Regions from separate parts of the Homo sapiens genome. Here region 2 is linked to region 1. Evidence: fine-mapped expression QTL. A gene starts in region 1. The other region holds a variant in brackets. All regions are shown on one strand. Distances are from middle to middle. Region 1 holds the start of LCN10 (lipocalin 10). Region 2 has its middle 13 kb from the start of LCN15.

What was found. PIP is the estimated chance that this variant, and not a neighbour inherited with it, causes the effect.
Region 2: its variant is fine-mapped to the expression of LCN10 in subcutaneous fat (GTEx, PIP 0.96).

The regions. Positions count from the first base shown.
Region 1 is chr9:136,736,414-136,747,104 of GRCh38, reverse strand. LCN10 (lipocalin 10) reads left to right here and starts at 4,165. Exons shown (of 6, transcript NM_001001712.3): 1 at 4,165-4,318; 2 at 5,085-5,224; 3 at 5,744-5,853; 4 at 6,162-6,269; 5 at 7,057-7,155; 6 at 7,552-8,935. The coding sequence starts at 4,202. The coding sequence ends at 7,580. It overlaps LCN6 (lipocalin 6), which reads left to right. Exons shown (of 7, transcript NM_198946.3): 3 at 1,191-1,261; 4 at 1,825-1,935; 5 at 2,364-2,465; 6 at 2,741-2,766; 7 at 2,963-3,088. The coding sequence ends at 2,443. MIR6722 (microRNA 6722) reads left to right here and starts at 135; the gene lies at 135-212. It overlaps LOC100128593 (a long non-coding RNA gene), which reads right to left and starts at 944. Exons shown (of 3, transcript NR_033913.1): 1 at 904-944; 2 at 1-27. RefSeq lists a silencer at 4,661-4,760.
Region 2 is chr9:136,772,003-136,782,693 of GRCh38, reverse strand. It overlaps the pseudogene ATP6V1G1P3. Among named protein-coding and RNA genes, the nearest start is that of LCN15, 13 kb to the right of the region's middle. RefSeq lists an enhancer at 8,643-8,937. The variant T/G (reference allele first, on the strand shown) is at 6,248.

The DNA.
Region 1 (10,691 bases):
CCTCTCAGCAGGCCTTTTTCGGGAATTCTGTTTAAAGGAGGATAATGCATTCGGACCTAAGAACCACTGGTTCTTTCATAACATAAATCCCCAAACAATATGGTCATGGACGCTGTTGGCCAGACTGGCCTTGTGGCCTCAGGCAGGCGCACCCGACCACATGCATGGCTGGTGGCGGCGTGCAGGGGTCGGGTGGGCCAGGCTGTGGGGCGGCCGTGCTACACAGGGGACACCTACAGGGCAGCCGGGCTGTGGGGGTAGCCGTGCTGGGGCAGGAGTCGGTGCCCGCCTCCCTTCACAGAAGAGTGGCCTGCTGGGTGGCGTGGTGGGTGTCTACCCCCTGGCAGGCTGGCGACAGAGCCCAGGCCTGAACCACTGAGCCAGGTACGGGGCCCAGAGAGAAGAACCTGCCCTCCTCACCAGCGTGCCTTCCCCCTGCACCTGCGCCTGCAGGGTATGGGCAGGGGCCCCACTGCACCCCCCGGGCCAGGCCTGGCCTCAGGGCGAGCTGGGACCAAGGGGCTCCAGGCTGAGGTGGCAGCTCCCACGTGGCTTTCCTAGTTCTTCTTGCTGTTCCTCCCGCATGGACTCAGCCTCAGTTTCCTTCCTTGGCAAACACCATTGCACCTTTGCTGGGTTTTGCTCACTCTGGGGACTGACCACTTAGGGAGCGCCGGCCCCTTCCCCCGAGTCGCAGGCAAACCCCCACCCCGCCCCATCCTTCCCCTGAGTCGCAGGCGAACCCCCACCCCACCCCATCCTTCCCCTGAGTCACGGGCGAACCCCCACCCCGCCCCATCCTTCCCCTGAGTTGCGGGCGAACCCCCACCCCGCCCCATCCTTCCCCTGAGTCACGGGCGAACCCCCACCCCACCCCATCTTTCCCCCGAGTCGCGGGCGAACCTCCCGTCTGTCGAGTCTCCTGTTGTGTCCTCAGCAGCATTCAGCGTTCCTGGTGGAGATCTGGCACTGAGGATCTCTCAGGAAGTGAATGGGAGTGTCCGCCCCTCTCAGGACTCCCACGCCGTCCACTCTCCGAGAACAGGTTTCCGGGCATCGGGGCATCTGGCAGAAGATGGAAGCTCTGGCCTCACTGCTGGCTGGCCTGGCCTGGACTCCTGAGCTCCGTCTCCTCTCACCGGGCCCCGGGGTCTTGACCCTGAGTGGGTGACAGGCCCCTTCTTTTCCAGGCTGGGAGGGTGTGACCAGAGTGTCATGGACCTGATAAAGCGAAACTCCGGATGGGTGTTTGAGAATCCCTGTGAGTCTGACGGCCACGGCCTCACCCAGGCCGTTCTTCCCTGCAGCATCCCCAGGCCCCCTGCGGGCAGGGACGGAGGGCTGACTCCGCTCCCGAGAGCCAGGAGGCTACAGGTTCTGGTCTTGGGATTGCTGCCCATCCTGAGGGTGAAGAGAAGCCCCTGGACAGAGGATTGGAACCTTGTTCCCAGCAGGCTCAGACACCAGTGAGGTCCAGCCAAGGTCCCCATAGGTGCAGAGGGCGAGGGGCCTGTTTAGTGGCTGTCTACAGGTACAGGGCTGGGCTGGTGTGACCCAGCCGCTCCTCGTTCACACCTGGGACAGGCTGGGGCAGTGCTTGTCTGTCTGTCCGTCAGTGTCTGAAAGCCCCTTGATGCTGGCACCAGGTGGGGTCGGGGGTGGGGGACAAAGCTTGGGGGCTCTGGGTGTGCTTGGAGGGGTCTCCTGGGGAGGGGGGCTCTCACTTGAATTGGCCCCTCTGTCCCTGTGGCCAGCATCAGCTCAGCGGCCCCTGGATGGATACAGCAGCTGCCCTCCCCTGAGGCGGGGGGTTTTGTTTCCTAGCAATAGGCGTGCTGGAGCTCTGGGTGCTGGCCACCAACTTCAGAGACTATGCCATCATCTTCACTCAGCTGGAGTTCGGGGACGAGCCCTTCAACACCGTGGAGCTGTACAGTAAGTGTGCTGTGCGGGGCCCACGTAGGGAGCTGTGTGGTGCGTGGGCCACTCGGGGCCCACGTTGGGAGCTGTGTGGTGCGTGGGCCGCTTGGGGGCCGCGTGGGGAGCTGTGTGGTGAGTGGGCCGCTCGGGGGCCATGTGGGGAGCTGTGTGGTGAGTGGGCCGCTTGGGGCCACATGGGGAGCTGTGTGGTGAGTGGGCCGCTCGGGGGCCATGTGGGGAGCTGTGTGGTGGGTGGGCCGCACAGGACCACATGCAGGCCAAGTTCCCCCACCTTGAGGCTCGCTGCACTGGAGGTGGCTTTGGAAGGACCGGGGCCAGCATCCCAGGGCAGGTGGCCTCCTTCCTGACCCTTCCCAGCCCCTCCCCGGCCCCTCCCCAGCTCTCAGAGGTTGCTTCCCCCTGCACTGCCCTGGTGCCCCCAGGTCTGACGGAGACAGCCAGCCAGGAGGCCATGGGGCTCTTCACCAAGTGGAGCAGGAGCCTGGGCTTCCTGTCACAGTAGCAGGCCCAGCTGCAGAAGGACCGTGAGTGTCCACCGGAGCAGCCTCGGGGGAGGCTTGGGGCAAGTTCTGGAGCCCACAGGGCGTGATGGGGTGACAGAGACCCTGGGGTTGATTCTGGCTTCTGCCTGACTCAGTCGCCCTGAAGGAGTCAGGCAGGCTGAGGGGGTCTTCACCTGCCCCTGCCCAAAGTCAGGCCTGGGGGTCTTGTCCCCACGGCAGGCGAGTCTTGTGGGTGGGGCCCTGGGGTGCTGGGGGGCTCAGTCCTTTTTCACAGCCAGTCTTGCCTCCCCTTCTAGTCACCTGTGCTCACAAGATCCTTCTGGTAAGCCGCCATCCTGAGCCTCACCCTGGGCTCTCTTGGGGGAAGGGGGTGGGGGAGGCCACCCTACGCACAGTGGGTGGGAGGACCCTCTGCCCAAGCCCACGGGGTTCATGGCTCCACTGTCTCTAAGGCAGCTGAGGGTGTGGAGGAGCCTCCATGGTGGGCTGGGCCCCCTCACACTCCTCTTGGTTTTCAGTGAGTGCTGCGTCCCCAGTAGGGATGGCGCCCACAGGGTCCTGTGACCTCGGCCAGTGTCCACCCACCTCGCTCAGCGGCTCCCGGGGCCCAGCACCAGCTCAGAATAAAGCGATTCCACAGCAAACCAAGGATGCTTTTGACTGGGGGCCAGCCGGGGAATTGCGGGGAGGATGGCGGGGGTCGTCACCAAGGGCCAAGCCACAGAACCATAGAGCCAGCTGCAAAGAAGACGCGTGCCCAACCCAGTCCCTTGCCAGAGCCCCTCTGGGTCTTCAGACACCCAAACTCAGGCCCGGGCTCAGAGGCGGGGGCTGGTCAGAGGACACAGCCTGGGAGGAAGCCAGCAGTGAGCTCCACCAGGACCGCAGCTGGGGTGCCAGAGGCTCCAAGGACTGCCCAGGACAAGAGAGAGGTGGCTGGTGGGGCTCAGAGCAGCCCCTGACTCCCCAGGCTCAGGCTTCTCTGGGCTGGGGTTGTGTCTCTTGCCTGGGCAGGGGCAGGGACCCCAGACACCTGAGCCTGCAGGTCCTCCTGTGTTCTGATGGGTGTGGGGGGCTGCGCTGCCTGCCGTCCTGGGAGAAGCACAGGCCATGGGGGTCTCGGGGCTGGATGGGGGGCTGGGGACTGTGTGAGGCTCATGCTGGAGTGAGGCGAGGTGCACACAGATGCCTTGACCTGCAAGGCTGGGCATGCACACGCATGCACATGTGAGCACACACCCACACATGCACACACACACATTCATGGGCACGGGCACACAGCCCCGGCCCGCCCTTCGGCACCTGCTCAGGTGCTTGGTGCCAGGCCCTCAAGAAGGTGGTGGGGGCTGTGTGTGTGGCTGCCGCGCAGAGCTCACCATGTCCACATCTGCCCCAGAAGGGCCACGACCAGCCCTTTGCCTGTCACCTGGGAGGTCTAGGATGAGGGCCAGGGCTTAATGAGTCTCAGGGGCACACACAGTGACCCCAGGCCGGGCACTGAGGGCAGGAGGGTCCTGGGGCCTCAGAGGGGCCTCTGTCTGCCAGGGCAGCCCAGGCCAGCAGTGACCACCAGGTGGGGCAGTGCCGGCTTCCCTGGAGTGTCTGGGGGTGGTCCCTGGGCGGGGAGAGGGTAGCAGAGCCCAAGGCCACACCTGTTGCCTCCCTCCGCTCCCTCCCCTCCCTCCTCTCCCGACACAGGCTGGCGGCTCCAGAGAGGTTTAAACACTGGCCTTGGCGGCTGAGGGAGGAGGGTGAAGATGAGGCAGGGGCTGCTGGTGCTGGCGCTGGTGCTGGTGCTGGTGCTAGTGCTGGCTGCAGGGTCCCAGGTGCAGGAGTGGTACCCCAGGGAGTCCCACGCCCTCAACTGGAACAAGGTGAGCCATGTGCCACTGGTCCCTGAGCCGGGCGCCGGCTCTGGAGCTGGAGCAGGCTCCTGCACAGTCTCCCGGCAGCCGCCCAGGAGCAGGGCTACCAGCAGTTCCAGGCACGGGCGCTGCCCACCTGGCCTCTCCCACTGCAGCCTCCAGCACAGGGGCCCCGCAAGTTGCAGGGCAAAGGCAGGGAGCCTCGAGGGGGTTCGGGGGCCCAGGGGGGTCAGGGAGGGCCAGGGTGGAGGGGCCCAGAGAGCTGTGGCCGAGGAGGTCGGGAGACGCCCAGAGTGCAGAGTGGGTGTGGAGCAAGCGGGGCATATTCTGTAGCGGGAGGGCCCGGGCACCTGCTGAGTGAGCCGTGGGAGCAGCACTCATTGGCACGGCGGTGCCCAGGGCGCTAGGGTTGGCAGCAGGCAGAGTTGGGGGCCGGGGGCCGGCAGGAAGGGAAGTGGCCGAGCAGTACCCAGCCCCCAGGAGGCCATGTGGGAAGGAGCCGGGGCCTCTGAGGTAGGGGGCCTCCCACCTGCTGGCGCCCACAGCCCAGCCCTTTGCTGCCTGGGGTCCCTGACCAGCCGGGCACCTGCTTCTCTGCAGCCCTGCTCCAGTGGCCAGGGCTTGAGTGGCCGGGACCGAGGCGGCACCTGGGCGGAGCTGGGACTCCGGCTCACAGAAGGGTCATTTGTCTCCTGGGTTCTCTAGCTGGGAACCTCGGGGGTGGGGACAGCCCCCGGTGGCAGCTCCTGTCCCCGCCCACACATCCGCTGCGCAGTTTTCAGGGTTCTGGTACATTCTGGCCACTGCCACTGATGCCCAGGGATTCTTGCCGGCCAGGGACAAGAGGAAGCTGGGGGCGTCCGTGGTAAAGGTGAACAAAGTGGGCCAGCTCCGCGTGCTCCTCGCCTTCAGACGGTGAGTGGGCAGCGCCCCCCAGGCAAGGGTCTCCCCTTCCAGGAGGAGGGAGCTGCCTCGGGGCTGGAAAGGAGTCTGGGAGGAGCCTGTCTGTCTGGAAGTTCCACAAGAACCGTCCCCCCACTTCCTCCCCCTAAACTCAGAGGAAGCCACCTGCAGCCCCTGGGACCCCACATGGGTGGGTGTTGGGAGGAAGCTGCCTGCAGACCTTGGGACCCCACATGGGTAGGTGTTGGGAGGAAGCCGCTTGCAGCTCCTGGGCCCCACACGGGTGGGTGTTGGGAGTTTCTCTCGTGCCGTGGGACAGGCCCCAGTCCGAATTGGAAAATCCTCAAACCACAGAGCCTCAGATTGACACGAGTTGGATAGTGAAGCAAAAAACTGGGGACCTGGGGCCCCAACCTTCCCGGGTCCCACGGGAGCAGGGGCGGGACCGAGACGTGTGGGTGGGGCTCGGTGGCTGGCAGGCGGGAGGAGGGGTTCCCTGGTCTGCAGCCTGAGCCCCCGCCTTGGCCCCAGGTTGAAGGGGTGCCAGTCCCAGGAGGTGATCCTGAGGAAAGACGGGAAGAAGCCGGTGTTTGGGAACGCCTGTGCATACGCGGCGGGCCCGAGGGAAGGACAGGAGGGAGGTGTGCTTGGGCTCTGGGCCCTGGAGGAGCTGCGTGATATGCCTCTGACCCCCCTGTGCCTTGAGCAGGCCCCTTGTCCCCGAGAGCACGTGGCAGGCAGGCGTCAGGCTGGCTGTGTTCCCAGAGCCCACACGTCATGTGCTGGGCGGCCTGGCCCGGGAGGGGAGGCCCCGGGAGGGCACTCAGTCCCTCTGGACACCTGCACCTGGGTGGGGGCTCTGAGGCCTCGGGCACCAGGGGTCAGGGCTGTGGGCGGGCACAGCCACGCCATCCGGGAACCAGCGGGCATCTCTGGGCATCTCTTTCAGTGAAAGGGGTGAAGGCCTTCCACGTGCTGTCCACTGACTACAGCTACGGCTTGGTCTACCTCCGCCTGGGGCGTGCAACCCAAAACTACAAGAACCTGCTGCTCTTCCGTGAGCAGGCACAGCGGATGGCAGAGGATGGTGGAGGGGGTGCAGAGGGAGGCATAGAGGGGCGCTGGGCACAGGGGGCCGGGCAGGAGGTGAGGCGGGCAGGGAGAGTGGGGGTTGGGGCGGTGGTCAGGGCAGGGGCAATGGAAGCCGAGACCACAGCAGTCAGGTCCTGGAGGTCGCTGAAGCAAGGATAGGGGACGTCAGGAAGAGGCTGCAGAGAAAGGTGGGCCATCCAGGGGGAGCGGAGGCCACCAGGATGGTGGCGGGTGCAGGTGCAACGTTCTGGGTGAGGGACACAGTGGGGATGAGGAGGCGTGGGAGGGGTCCCAGGTAAGGGTCTGCCCGGGATGGAGGGGTGTGGAAGTGACCCAGTGTGGGTTAAGGGCCACAAACCCAATTCTAGACACCAACCACTTGGGGTACACGGAAAGGAGTGGCCCTCCCGGTTGGAACGGGTAGAGGGGAGGTGGGGTCCTGGGGTCTCAGTCGAGGCAGGGCACGCTCAGGGTGCAGCAAGCTGGGGCACAGCTGAGGGGCTGGCTGGAGGGGACTCTGCAGGCAGAGAGGGTTCCCCAGGTGACAGCGTGGTGACCCTGGCTTCCCGAGCCTGGCTGCCTCGTAAGTGGGGAGGGGCCCAGCGGCCGCTGTCCTCCCCTGGCCAACCCCTGCTTCACGCCTAAGCTCTGAGGACATTTCAGCAGCTCCTGGGGTAGGGATGGGGGTCAGGGTGCAGACCCTAAAATGGCCAGAGCTGGAGTCTCTGATGTGATCCTGATCTCAACCTCAGATAGGCAGAATGTTTCGAGCTTCCAGAGTCTGAAGGAATTCATGGACGCTTGTGACATTCTGGGGCTCTCCAAGGCCGCCGTCATCCTCCCGAAAGACGGTAAGCTGTGCCCTCAGCCCTTTGCCCTCCTGGCCCTACCTGCCCGTCCCATTGGGGAGCTGATTCATTGGGGGAAGGAGAGATGAAAGGATCCATTTGAAAGGTGCCATTTGAAAGATCCGCCCAAACGTGCCTCCCACCTCCTGCCGCCCCTGAGAATCGGGGCTTGGCCTGGCAGGCCTGGCACCGACAGCGAGAGGCGTCCGGAGCAGATGCTGCATCCGACCAGGCGATGCCGTGGCTGTGGCTGCAGGATCGGGGGCTGCATGGCTGTGTTCTCGTGGTGCCCAAGACGAGCACGCATGGAACCAGGGAGCGGCCGGGGGAGACGTGTTCACGGCTCATGTGTCTCCTCCAAGCAGCCAGCCCACATGTGGCTGTTTTCCTCTCCCACAGCGTCCCGTACACACACCATCCTGCCATGAGAGCCAGCGTCCTCTGCTCTTCCCTTTCGACGCGTGGTCCTCCCAGACCCGAGGAGCGTTGTTCCAGATGTCAAGTGGAGACCACGGCTTGTTGAGAGGTGTTTGGTGACTCTAGGTCATTGACAGTGTGAAAATCAAGTGGCTCAAGGGATCCTTTATGATCACAGAAAGATGGGGGAAGGAGGATACAGGCTGACCGGGTGGCGAGATGTCAGCCAGGCCCCTTCCCCACTGTCTTCTGGAGCACACTGCAGGCTGCTGCTATTCCCTGTCTGCTGTGAAACAGACCACAGGCCGGCCCAACGCAGTCCTCGCCGTGTGCCTTGCCTCTGCCCTCCACGCCGCCGCCACCCTCCGCGTTCCTTTACATCCTGCACTTTCTCAGGAAGCCGTTCGCATATCCACCCAACATGGAGGAGCCCCCATGACGTGCCAGGCAGCGTGCTGGCCCCTGCGGCTGCGTTAGGGAACAGAATCGGCAAACGCAGTCCCAGAGTTGATGCCTGATCAGGAGAAGCCAACTTCAGCAGTGTGGTCACCTGGATACTCGAGTATAGACCCTAGATCACCTGGATACTCGAGTATAGACCCTAGAAGTGTATCTAGGCGCGGCCAGGGCCCCACAACAGCAGGTCTGACTCATTCCATCCAGGGCAGCATCAGGGAGAGCTTCCTGGGGGAAGTGGCATTTGGGCTGACCTGGGAAGGGTGGTGGGTGTTAAGTCAGTTTGGGTGGGGCTGGAGGAGCAGGGGTGCATCCCCAGAACAGGATGTGACTTCTGAAAAGACATCAGAGTAGAGAAAATGGTTTCTCAAGGAGATTGGGGACGCCAGTATCAGAATGGCGGCGGGGAGAGCCACAGAGGAGCAGGAGGGGGCCCACCAGACCACGGCACCTCGAAGGCTGCGGTGAAGGCTTAGGTCTCACTCAAGGGGTGATGACGGGAGGTTGTCTGAGATGAACCCCCCAACTGAATGAATGGACCTTCTTCTGGCCAAGGGGATCCCAAAGAAACCCTGAACCCGAGTCCTCAGCCATGACGGGGTAAGGGGTCAGCCCCTCCTTCTGGCCCGAGAAGAGATCAGAGATTGGTTCTGGGCAGTCCATGGAGAATTTGCTCAGCTGGACCAGTACACGCTTCTCCTTTCATGAATATTCATGACTCCTCCTGAAGCTTATTGAACATCTCTATTTGGCCATCTCCTTCAGCGTAAATTCCTGTCCCCTCTGTCCCTCCCCTCCAAGTGTCTGTTCCAGGCTTCTGGCCTGAGGCTACGCTTCCTAGCCTGTCAGAAGGGCTGCCCTGCTGGCTGCAATCTCTTATGAGAAATAAAGCTCTCCTGTGTGCAAAAAAGTAGTTTGGAGCCCGGGCAACATGTTGAGACTTCATCTCTACAAAAAATACAAAAATTAGCTGAGCGTGGTGGTGGGCGCCTGTAGTCCTAGCTACTCAGGAGGCTAAGGTGGGAGGATTGCTTGAGCCTGGGAGGTTGAGTGAGTCAGGATCGTGCCACTGCACTCCAGCCCGGGCAACAGAGTGAGACTGTCTCAAAAAACATATATATATGCCAGGCATGGTGGCTCACACCTGTAATCCCAGCACTTTGGGAGGCTGAAACGGGCGGATCATGAGGTCAAGCAATCGAGACCATCCTGGCCAATATGGTGAAACCCCGTCTCTGTTAAAAAATACAAAAAATTAGCCAAACGTGGTGGTACACGCCTGTAATCCCAACTATTCAGGAGGCTGAGGCAGAAGAATTGCTTGAACCCAGGAGGCGGAGGTTGCAGTGAGCTGAGATCACACCATTGCACTCCAGCCTGGTGACAGAGCGAGACTCTGTCTCAAAAAAAATTATATATATATATATGAGATATATATATAATATATAATATAATATAATATAATATTATATATATATAGTATATATTATGACATATATATAAAAGGCTGGGCGCCTGTAATCCCAGCACTTTGGGGGGCTGAACCAGGTGAATCACTTGAGTTCAGGGGTTCGAGACCAGCCTGACCAACATAGAGAAAAACTGTCTCTACTAAAAATACAAAGTTAGCCATGCGTGGTGGCACATGCCTATAATCCCAGCTACTCGGGAGGCTGAGGCAGGAGAGTAGCTTGAACCCGGGAGGCGGAGGTTGTGGTGAGCCGAGATCATGCCATTGCACTCCAGCCTGGGCAACGAGAGTGAAATTCCATCTCAAAAAAAAAAAAAAAAAAATACAGCCGGGCATGGTGGCTCACACCTGTAATCCCAGCACTTTGGGAGGCCGAGATGGGTGTATCACGAGGTCAGGATTTCAAGACCAGCCTGGCCAAGATGCTGAAACCCTGTCTCTACTAAAAAAAACAAAAATCAGCCAGGTGCGGTGGCGGGTGCCTGTAATCCCAGCTACTCGGGAGGCTAAGGCAGGAGAATCGCTTGAACCCAGGCAGCAGAGGCTGCAGTGAACCGAGATCGCTCCACTGCACTCCACTGGGCGACAGAGCAAGACTCTAGCTCAAAAAAAAAAAAAAAATACAGGCTGGGTGTGGTGGCTCACGCCTGTAATCCCAGCACTTTGGGAGGCCCAGGCGGGCGGATCACGAGGTCACAAGTTTGAGACCAGCCTGGCCAACATGGTGAAACCCCGTCTCTACTTAAAATACAAAAATTAGCCAGGCATAGTGGCAGGTACCTGTAATCCCAGCTACTCGGGAGGCTGAGGCAGGAGAATCACTTGAACCTGGGAGGTCGAGGTTGCAGTGAGCTGAAATCATGCCACTGCACTCCAGCCTGGGTAACAGAGCAAGGCTCTGTCTCAAAAAAAAAAAAAAAGAAAGAAAGAAAGAAAGAAACTCCAGGATTTAGATGTAGCAGGTGTGGTGCACGCACTCGTGGTGACCGCTCCTCAGGAGGCTGAGGTGGGAGGATGGCTGGAGCCCAGGGGGTCAAGGCTGCTGTGAGCCGATTGCACCACTGCACTCCAGCCTGGGTGAGAGAGGAGACCCTGTCTCAAAAAACATTAAAGAGTGGCAGAGACGTGACTACTTCTTCCAGAATCCCAGGCCAAGGCACAGTCATGGAGAGGTGGGCCCAGGCTCCCCGGCCCC
Region 2 (10,691 bases), 36 kb before region 1:
GTATTGCACAACACTGCACCTGGTGTCAAGCCCTACACCTGCCCACTCAGGAGGCAGGAGTTAATCCCAGAGGTCTGCGTCCTAATGCGTTATGGCAAATGGATGTCACGCATGTTCCTTCATTTGGAAGATTGTCATATGTTCATGTAACAGTTGATACTTATTCACATTTCATGTGGGCAACCTGACAGACAGGAGAAAGTACTTCCCATGTTAAAAGACATTTATTTTTCTTTTTTTGCTGTCATAGGAGTTCCAGAAAAAATTAAAACTGACAATGGACCAGGATACTATAGTAAAGCTTTCCAAAAATTCTTGAATCAGTGGAAAATTGCACGTACAACAGGAATTCCCTATAATTCCCAATGACAGGCCATAGTTGAAAGAACTAATAGAACACCGAAAACTCAATTGGTTAAACAAAGAAAAGAGGGAGACAGTACGGAGTATATCACTCTTCAGATGCAACTTAACCTAGCACTCTATACTTTAAATTTTTTAAACCTTTATAGAAATCAGACTACTACCTCTGCAGAACAACATCTTACTGGTAAAAAGAACAGCCCACATGAAGGAAAACTAATTTGGTGGAAAGACAACAAAAATAAGACATGGGAAATAGGGAAGGTGGTAACGTGAGGGAGAGGTTTTGCTTGTGTTTCACCAGGAGAAAATCAGCTTCCTGTTTGGATACCCACTAGACATTTAAAGTTCTACAATGAACCCATCGGAGATGCAAAGAAAAACGCCTCCGTGGAGACAGAGACACCGCAATTGAGCACCATTGACTCGCCAGATGAACAGAATGGTGATATTAAAAGAACAAATTTTTGAAGCATCAAAAGCCCATTTAAATTTGGTACCAGGAACTGAGGCAATTGCGGGAGTTGCTGATGGCCTCACAAGTCTCTCTCTCTCTCTTTTTTTTAGACGGAGTCTCACTTTGTCGCCCAGGCTGGAGTGCAGTGGCACTATCTCGGCTCACTGCAAGCTCCACCTCCCAGGTTCATGCCATTCTCCTGCCTCAGCCTCCTGAGTAGCTGGGACTACAGGCGCCTGCCACCACGCCCAGCCAATTTTTTTGTATTTTTTTAGTAGAGACAGGGTTTCACTCTGTTAGCCAGGATGGTCTCAATCTCCTGACCTCGTGATCCACCCACCTTGGCCTCCCAAAGTGCTGGGATTACAGGCGTGAGCCACCGTGCCCAGCCGGCCTCACAAGTCTTAACCCTGTCACTTGGGTTAAAACCCTCGGAAGTTCCGCTATCGTAAATTTCGTGTTAATGCTTCTGTCTGTTGTCAGTCTGCAGCTGTACCCAACAGCTCCGAAGAGACAGCGACCATCGAGAATGGGCCATGATGATGATGGTGGTTTTGTCAAAAAGAAAAGGGGGAAATGTGGGGGAAAGAGAGGTCAGACTGTTACTGTGTCTATGTAGAAAAAGGAAGACATAAGAAACTCCATTTTGATCTGTATTAAGAAAAATTCTTCTGCTTTGACATGCTGTTAATCTGTAACCTTAGCCCCAACCCTGTACTCACAGAAACATGTGCTGTGTTAACTCAAGGTTTGAGGGATTTAGGGCTATACAGCATGTGCTTTGTTAACAATGTGTTTGCAGGCAGTATGCTTGGTAAAAGTCATCGCCATTCTCCATTCTCCATTAACCAGGGACACAGTGCACTGCGGAAAGCCGCAGGGACCTCTGCCCAAGAAAGCCTGCGTATTGTCCAGGTCTCCCCCCACTGAGACAGCCTGAGATATGGCCTCATGGGAAGGGAAAGACCTGATCGTCCCCCAGGCTGACACCCATAAAGGGTCTGTACTGAGGAGGATTAGTGAAAGAGGAAGGCCTCTTTGCAGTTGAGATAAGAGGAAGGCATCTGTCTCCTGCTCATCCCTGGGAATGGAATGTCTTGGTGTAAAGCCCAATCATACATTCTGTTTACTGAGATAGGAGAAAACTGCCCCATGGCTGGAGGTGAGACATGCTGGCGGCAATACTGCTCTTTACTGCACTGAGAGGTTTGTGTAAAGTCAGACATAAACCTGGCCTACGTGCACATCCAGGCACAGCACCTTTCCCTAAACTTATTTATGACACAGAGTCCTTTGCTCATGTTTTCCTGCTGACCCTCTGCCCACCATTACCCTATAGTCCTGCCATGTCCCCCTCACCGAGATAGTAGAGCTAGTGATCAATAAATACTGAGGAACTCAGAGACCAGCGTCGGTGCAGTTCCTCACTTGCTGAGTGCCGGTCCCCTGGGCCCACTTTTCTTCCCTTATACTTTGTCTTTGTGTCTTATTTGTTTTCTCAGTCTCTCATCTCCACCTGGTGAGAAATACCCGCAGGTGTGGAGGGGCAGGTCCCCTTCATAATTTCATAAGACTATAACTAGAGCTATGCTAAAGCTTCATATTTCATGAGGGCATCTAAAATGCCTATCCAAAGAACAGGTGCTTCTCTTCTTCTATCCATTTATGCGGTAGTTTTCATGCATTTCTGGCTGAATGTCACAGACAAAAGCCAAGAGGTTATCCCAGACTTCATCCCTGTTGTGAGGAAAGTAGGTCTGGAGGATGGTCATCTTCTCCTGGGTCTCCTTCTCCACTTTGGTGCTGCCAGTGCCATGGATTCCAGTGCCGCAGCTTCCTTGGCTTTCAACTCTTTCTCCCTCTGCAGGTGGTACTGTTCAATTTCAGCCTGAGCTGCTTCTTTGGCCTGTGTCAGCCTCCAGTTCTTTCTTTTTTTTTTGAGACGGAGTCTCGCTCTGTGGCCCAGGCTGGAGTGTAGTGGCAGCGATCTTGGCTCACTGCAACCTCTACCTCCCAGGTTCAAACAATTCTCTGCCTCAGCCTCCTGAGTAGCTGGGACTACAGGTGCATGCCAGCATGTTGCAGGAAGTCAGGGACCCCGAATGGAGGGACCAGCTGGAGCCGCAGCAGAAGAACACAAATTGTGAAGATTTCATGGACATTTGTCAGTTCCCAAATAATACTTTTACAATTTCTTATGCCTGTCTTTACTTTAGTCACTTACTCCTGTTATCTTTGTAAACTGAGGATGTAAGTCACCTCAGGACCACTGTGATAATTGTGTTAACTGTACAAATTGATTGTAAAACATGTATGTTTGAACAATATGAAATCAGTGCACCTTGAAAAAGAACAGAATAACAGCAATGTTTAGGGAACAAGGGAAGACAACCATAAGGTCTGACTGCCTGCAGGTTCGGGCAAAAAAAGCCATATTTTTCTTCTTGCAGAGAGCCTATAAATGGACATGCAAGTAGGAGAGACGGGGAGGAGATGGTGTTGTTGTTCTAGTTTGAGGGTCGCAGAGCTGGAGACCTGAGGAGGAGCCGGTGTTGATCTAGTTTGAGCATTGGGGAGCTGGAGACCCTGGAGGAGCTGGTGTTGATCCAGTTTGAGGGTCGGGGAGCTGGAGACCTGAGGAGGAGCCGGTGTTGATCTAGTTTGAGGGTTGGGGAGCTGGAGACCCTGGAGGAGCTGGTGTTGATCTAGTTTGAGCATTGGGGAGCTGGAGACCCTGGAGGAGCCAGTGTTGATCTAGTTTGAGCGTTGGGGAGCTGGAGACCCTGGAGGAGCTGGTGTTGATCTAGTTTGAGGGTCACGGAGCTGGAGGCCTGGGGAGGAGCCAGTGTTGATCCAGTTTGAGGGTCGGGGAGCTGGAGACCCTGGAGGAGCTGGTGTTGATCCAGTTGGAGGGTCACGGAGCTGGAGACTGAGGAGGAGCCAGTGTTGATCCAGTTTGAGGGTCGGGGAGCTGGAGACCCTGGAGGAGCCAGTGTTGATCCAGTTTGAGGGTCGGGGAGCTGGAGACCCTGGAGGAGCCGGTGTTGATCCAGTTTGAGAGTTGGGGAGCTGGAGACCCTGGAGGAGCTGGTGTTGATCCAGTTTGAGGGTCGGGGAGCTGGAGACTCTGGAGGACCTGGTGTTGATCCAGTTTGAGGGTCGGGGAACTGGAGACCCTGGAGGAGCTGGTGTTGATCCAGTTTGAGGGTCGGGGAGCTGGAGACTGAGGAGGAGCCGGTGTTGATCCAGTTTGAGGGTCACGGAGCTGGAGACTGAGGAGGAGCCGGTGTTGATCCAGTTTGAGGGTTGGGGAGCTGGAAACCCTGGAGGAGCCGGTGTTGATCCAGTTTGAGGGTCGGGGAGCTGGAGACCCTGGAGGAGCTGGTGTTGATCCAGTTTGAGGGTTGGGGAGCTGGAGACCTGGGAGGAGCTGGTGGTGTTGTTCTAGTTTGAGGTTCACAGAGCTGGAGACCTGGGGAGGAGATGGTGTTGTTCTAGTTTGAGGATTGCAGAGCTGGAGGCCTGGGGAGGAGCCAGTGTTTTTCTAGTTTGAGGGTCCTGGACCTGGAGATTTGAGGAGGAGCTGGTGTTGTTCTAGTTTGAGGTTAGTGGAGCTGGAGAATCGGGGTGGTGCCAGTGTTTTCTAGTTTGAGGGTTATGGAGCTGGAGACCAGGGGAGAAGCTGGTGGTGGTGTTCTAGTTTAAGGGTCATGGAGCTGGAGGCCTGGGGAGGAGCCAGTGTTGTTCTAGTTTGAGGGTCGTGGAGCTGGAGAACTGAGGAGGAGCTGGTGTTGTTCTAGTTTGAGAGTCATGGAACTGGAGACTTGGAGAGGAGCTGGTGTTATTCTAGTTTGAGGGTTGTGGAGCTGGAGACCAGAGAAGGAGCTGGTGTTGTTCTAATTATAGGGTCATGGAACTGGAGAATCAGGGAGGTGCCAGCGTTGTTCTAGTTTGAGGGCTGTGGAGCTGGAGACCTGGGGAGAAGCTGGTGTTGTTCTAGTTTGAGCGTTGTGGAACTGGAGACCCAGGGAGAAGCTGGTGGTGTTGTTCTAGTTTGAAGGTGGTGGAGCTGGAGACCTGGGGAGAGGCTGGTGCTGCTGTTGTAGTTTGAGGGTCATGGAACTGGAGGCGGGGAGGAGCCGGTGCTGTTGCGCTTCATGTCTGAGGGTTATATAGCTGGAAACCCAGGGAGAAGCCGGTATTACCGCTTTTAAAGTCTGAAGGTCGTGGAGCCTGAGGCCCAGGGAGGAGCCGGTGCTGCTCTTCAAATGGACCCTCCCGAGGTCTCCAGCTCCATGACCGTCAAACTACAACAGCAGCACCAGCTCCACCCTGGGTCTCCAGATCCACGACCCGCAAACTGGAACAGCAGCACTGACTCCTCCCCGGGTCTCCAGCTCCATGACCCTCAGACTCGTTCTAGTTTCTGTTTCAACTTTCTGTTGTCTTTTTGAGACAGGGCTCTGTTGCCTCGGCTGTAGTTTTGAACTTTGATGTGAAGGAATTCTCCTGGGTGGCTGCTCCTACACTGCGTTGGGTCTGAGTATCTGCTTGATGTCTATTTCTGTCCTCCATTCTCTCCCTGAGACCCACCCACATTGACATGGTTCATTTTCATTGCTGCGTGATCTCCCGTCTCCATTCTCTTCCTGAGACCCACCCACACTAACATGAGTCTTTTTCATTGCTGCACGATCTCCCGCCGTCTGAGGGGAGCATGGGAAATGTCTTCATCTTCCTGTGGACGAGAGTTCAGCCAGGCTGGGGCCCTGAGGACTGTGCTGCTGGGAATGCTCTTGGGCCTTTCTTTTGTACACAGGTGCACATTTCTCCTGGTCAGTAGCTTTCAGTTTTTACAATTTCATCCCAGGTAAGAAATGTAATTTTCCTCATAACCCACAAAACACACCCTTTCATATGCAGGGATACCAAAAACAATTTCACATCATTCTTAGCAGTGGCTGAGGGTTCCTATTGCTCTCCATTCTTCCCAATCCTTGCATTGATTGGGCTGTGGGATTTTTGCTGTCTGGTGGGTGACACGTGATCCTCATCCTGTTAGCTGAGACCCTCTTCATGTTTTTATTGCCCTTTCCTTCACATTTCCTTTTCTGTGAAGGGCTGGTTCAACTCTTTTTTTTTTGAGACGGAGTCTGACTCTGTCACCTAGGCTGGAGTGCAGTGGCACAATCTTGGCTCACTGCAAGCTCCACCTCCTGGGTTCAAGCAATTTTTCTTCCTCAGCCTCCTGAGTAGCTGGGACTACAGGCATGCACCACCACGCCCAGCTAATTTTTTGTATTTTTAGTAGAGAGAGGGTTTCACAATATTGGCCAGGCTGGTCTCGAACTCTTAACCTCGTGATCCGCCCGCCTCGGCCTCCCAAAGTGCTGGGATTACAGGTGTGAGTCACTGTGCCCAGCCAGG[T/G]CTGGTTCAACTCTTTTGCCCAGTTTCCGTTTAGTTGTCTGAATTTTTGCCTTTTTATTTTTTCATTTTTTTTTTTTGAGATGGAGTCTTGCTCTGTCGCCCAGGCTGGAGTGCCGTGGCACGATCTCGGCTCACTGCAAGCTCTGTCTCCCGGGTTCATGCCATTCTCCTGCCTCAGCCTCCAGAGTAGCTGGGACTACAGGCGCCCGCCACCACGCCTGGCTAATTATTATTATTACCATTATTTTGTATTTTTAGTAGAGACGGGGTTTCACCATGTTAGCCAGGATGGTCTTGATCTCCTGACATCGTGATCCGCCCACCTCGGCCTCCCAAAGTGCTGGGATTACAGGCGTGAGCCACAGCACCTGGCACCTTTTTCTTTTATTATTATTATTTGAGACGGAGTCTCATTCTGTCATCCAGACTGGAGAGCAATGGCACAATCTTCGCTCACTGTGGCCTCTGCCTTCCGGGTTCAAGCGATTCTCCTGCCTCAGCCTCCAGAGTAGCTGGGATTACAGGCGTGAGCCACCATGCCCAGCCAATTTTTGTATTTTTAGTAGAGGTGGAGTTTCACCATGTTGGCCAGGCTGGTCTGGAACTCCTGACCTCAGGTGACCTGCCTGCCTCAGCTTCCCAAAGTGCTGGGATTACAGATGTGAGCCACCGCACCTGGCCTGCCTTTTTCTTTTTCAAGAGGACTCTTTATAGATTATGCCCATTCATTCTGATGACTATCTGTGTGGCAAAGATGGGTTTGAATCCACCAGGATGAACCTGCAGGATCCCCTTTCTGGGGTGGGAGAGGAGACAGAGAGGGGTAGAGGGGCATGGAGAATCAGAGCCGAGAGGAGGCTGAGTCAGGCGGGGACTGCAGGCTGCTGTGAGGACATGGCTCCTCCTCTGAGCCAGGTGGGATTAGCAGGGGATTTTACCCAGAGGAGGCATGGGGTCTCCCTTATGTATTTCTGCCATGGTTGGCTCAGTTGAACTCACCTTTTGAACAAGACTTGGCCTTGGCCACCCAGAGGCCCCTGGCCAAGAGCTTGACTCCTGGCACGGCCACTGACACATCCATGTTTGGTGCACACATGGCTGGGCAGCCCCGAGACCGGCTCTGCCTGGGCCTCTCATTGGTGGCATTGCTCGCATTTGTCCCCTCCCAAGTCTGGCCTATTTATGAGCCTCATCACACCTCGGCATGAAGAAGGAGGTTTGGCAAATAACCCATAAAGCATCTTTTAAAAGGTTAATGGTCACTGTTGTGGGGAGAAAGGGCCACTGAGCTTGGATGCTCTCTTTGCTGATGTGGTTTTCTCAATTAAGTGAAAATAAAGAGCCATGCCTCTTTGCACGTACCTGGTCTGATTACCAAGCAGCCCAGGAGGCCTCGGGGTGTCTTGGAAGCTGGAACCATCAGCCCTGTGTGAACTACAGGCGCTTCTATATAAGCTGCTCCCAGGTGAGGGGAGCGGGTCAGGTGATCCCAAGCTCCGCTTCCTGCTCGACATGAGTGAGCTGTGTGTGCAGAGTTGGTTGTGGAGGAATCCCACGGTCTGGCCAGTCACCTGCAGGAGGGCAGGGTTGATGCTGTTCTCATATTCATCATCCACAGTGCCTGGCACTTGCTCCAGGCCATGGCAGGCGTACAGGTGTCCAACTGATCTTAGATAATGAGGGACCTGCTCCGCAGCCCTGAGGGTAGGAGGGAAGTCAGCTTGAGAGCTTTCCTGGGTCATGCCTCACCTAACTTACATGGCGTTTCCAGGAGAGAGGGCTACTGGCGGTGTCTGTGTATCAGTCAGGATGAGTAACAGCAGCTGCTACAACAACAGCTCCCAACGCTCAGAGGGATGCACACGAGGATTCTTTCCTGCTCTTGTCACAGTCTCACGACACTAAAGATATGTGTCAGTCCACCTGCATTGCTATAAAGGAATACCTGAGGCTGGGTTAATTAGGGGTGGGGCAGTTCCCCTGAAAGGACTGTTAGGAGACAAGTACCTGTGACTGTGATGTGCATCTTGCAAAGTCCTAAAGGGAAGTGGGTCAAATTAGCTTTCTCCAGCAGACAGGGAGGGGCACCCACGGCAAAATCCCTTCACCTGGGAGCAGGTGTGGTCCTTGAGTCCTATGTTGCCTGTTTCTTCCTCCATCTTGACCTGCAGGCCTGATGTGATCTGACCTCTGCCTGCCTCTCTGACTCCATCTCCCCTCCCGCTCCTGTTCTTTCTACCAATTAGGTTACAGCCTCGGTGAATGTGACAAGGACCCTGAATCACGGTGGCTTAACTAAGACAGAGGTTCATTCCCTTCACATGAAAGTCCAAGGCAGTCGGGAGATTCTTCTCTATGCAGTTTTTAGGGTCTTAGCCTCCTTCCATCTTGCTGTTCTGACTTCCTTAGGGTGTAGCTTCCCCCTGAGAGTCCACCCTGTCTCCTGCCAGCCAGCAGGGAGAGGAGAAGGGGACAACAGGGCACAAAACTTCCTTCCTCTAAAGGCAGCCGCTGTGCACAGGCCTCGCCTCCCCATTGGCCACAGCCTGGTCACATGGCCACTGCTTGCTGCAAGGGATGCTGGGAAGTGTAGTCTTCATCCTGGATGCCAGTGCCCACATGGGTCCCTCCTGAGGCCGAGGGGAGAGAGGACATGGGAGAGAGTTTCTGGTCTCCCCCGCCCTGGGGTCAGGGTTGACTCCCCGGGTGATGGTTGTTCTTGTGTGTTGACTGCGTCTACACATCAGTTCCACTATATTGTGTGTCTGTTCTGGTGAGGTCTGGATGCCTCCAGGCCTGAGCAGGAGAAACCAGCAACAGGATTTGTTTTGTTTTGCTGAATCTAGGATCACATTGTTGCAGGAAGTAGCTGGCAGCTAATGATGGCTGTTGCTGGGGGATCTGCTGGCCTGTAAACCAGGGTGTTCATGTGGCTGCTTGGGCTTCCTTTCAACATGGCTGCCTCTGAGCAGTTGTACTTCTCATGTGCCAGTGGACTTCGAAGACACAGGAAGTAGCAGTCTCCAGGCCAGTTTAGCAGTTTCCAGCAGTTTCCAGGCCACTCCCGAACTGGCACAGCATCCCTTCCACTGTATTCAATTGGCCAAAGTATAACAGTAAAACAGTAGAACTAACATAACTCACTCCGTTTGTGTTCAAGGGGCCTTTACCCATCCTGCACGTAGGCTAGGATAATTTCGGAGCACTGAGATAATATGGAAAAACAGTAATCATGTAGTTTTAAAAACTAACTCTGAGGTTGAAAGTATATAAACAACTAACAATATTTTATTAAATATGTGTAAAAGCATTGCGACCTGACTAAGGACAAAGAAGTTCCCAACCTCCTCAGACTTGCTGGTGCCCAGATGTCTGAGATGTCTGTGCTCATAGGCCACTTCTTTTTTTTTTTTTTTTTTTTTTGACAAGGTCTATCACCCAGGCTGGAGTGCAGTGGTGCCATCTCGGCTCACTGCAACCTCCACCTCCTGGGCTCAAGTCATCCTCCAACCTCAGCCTTCTGAGTAGCTGGGACTACAGGTGCACACCACCATGCTAGGCTAATTTTTGTATTTTTTGTAGAGACAGGGTTTTACCATGTTGCCCAGGCTGGTCTCGAACTTGTGAGCTCAAGTGGTCCACCTGCCCTGGCCTCCCAAAGTGCTGGGATTACAGGTTTGAGCCACCCCACCCAGATGTAGGTCACCTCTTTTTGAGACGGAGTCTTGCTCTGTCACCCAGGCTGGAGTGCAATGGCACCATCTCAGCTCACTGCAACCTCTGCCTCCTGTGTTCAAGTGATACTCCTGCCTCAGCCTCCAGAGTAGCTGGGAATACAGGCATGCGCCACTATGCCCGGCTAATTTTGTATTTTTAGTAGAGACGGTGTTTCTCCATGTTGGTCAGGCTGGTCTCGAACTCCCGACCTCAGATGATCTGCTCGCCTCGGCCTCCCAAAGTGGGAGTGTTGGGATTACAGGCGTGAGCCACCGCACCCGACTGTAGATCACTTCTTGATCCTAACCACCTTCTCTTTCTCTGCCCTTAACATAAAAAGAGCTTGAAATTTGTACCCACCTGAGATGGCACATTAGGACTCTAGTCCACCATCTTCTTGGTTTGCTGGCTGTCTGAATAAATTGCTTTCTTCCCACCAACTCCTGTCTCTTGAGTTTTGGCTTTTGAGCAGCTGAATGTGTGTTCGGTTACAAAAGCAGTCACAAGGTGCCCCTCCCGCCAAGATTTAAGGGGTGGAGAATTAAACTGTCACTTTGAAGAAGAGAGTTCAGGACTGCCCCTTCCACCCAAGACAGCAAACGGGCCAGTCCTTGAGCAGGTAGATGGGGAGGGGAGGTGGCAGAGCAGCCTGAGAGCTACAGCAGAGTGCTGGTGGGGAGGACCATGGGAGGGACCACAGACTCAAGAACTGTGTTGAGAAGGATTT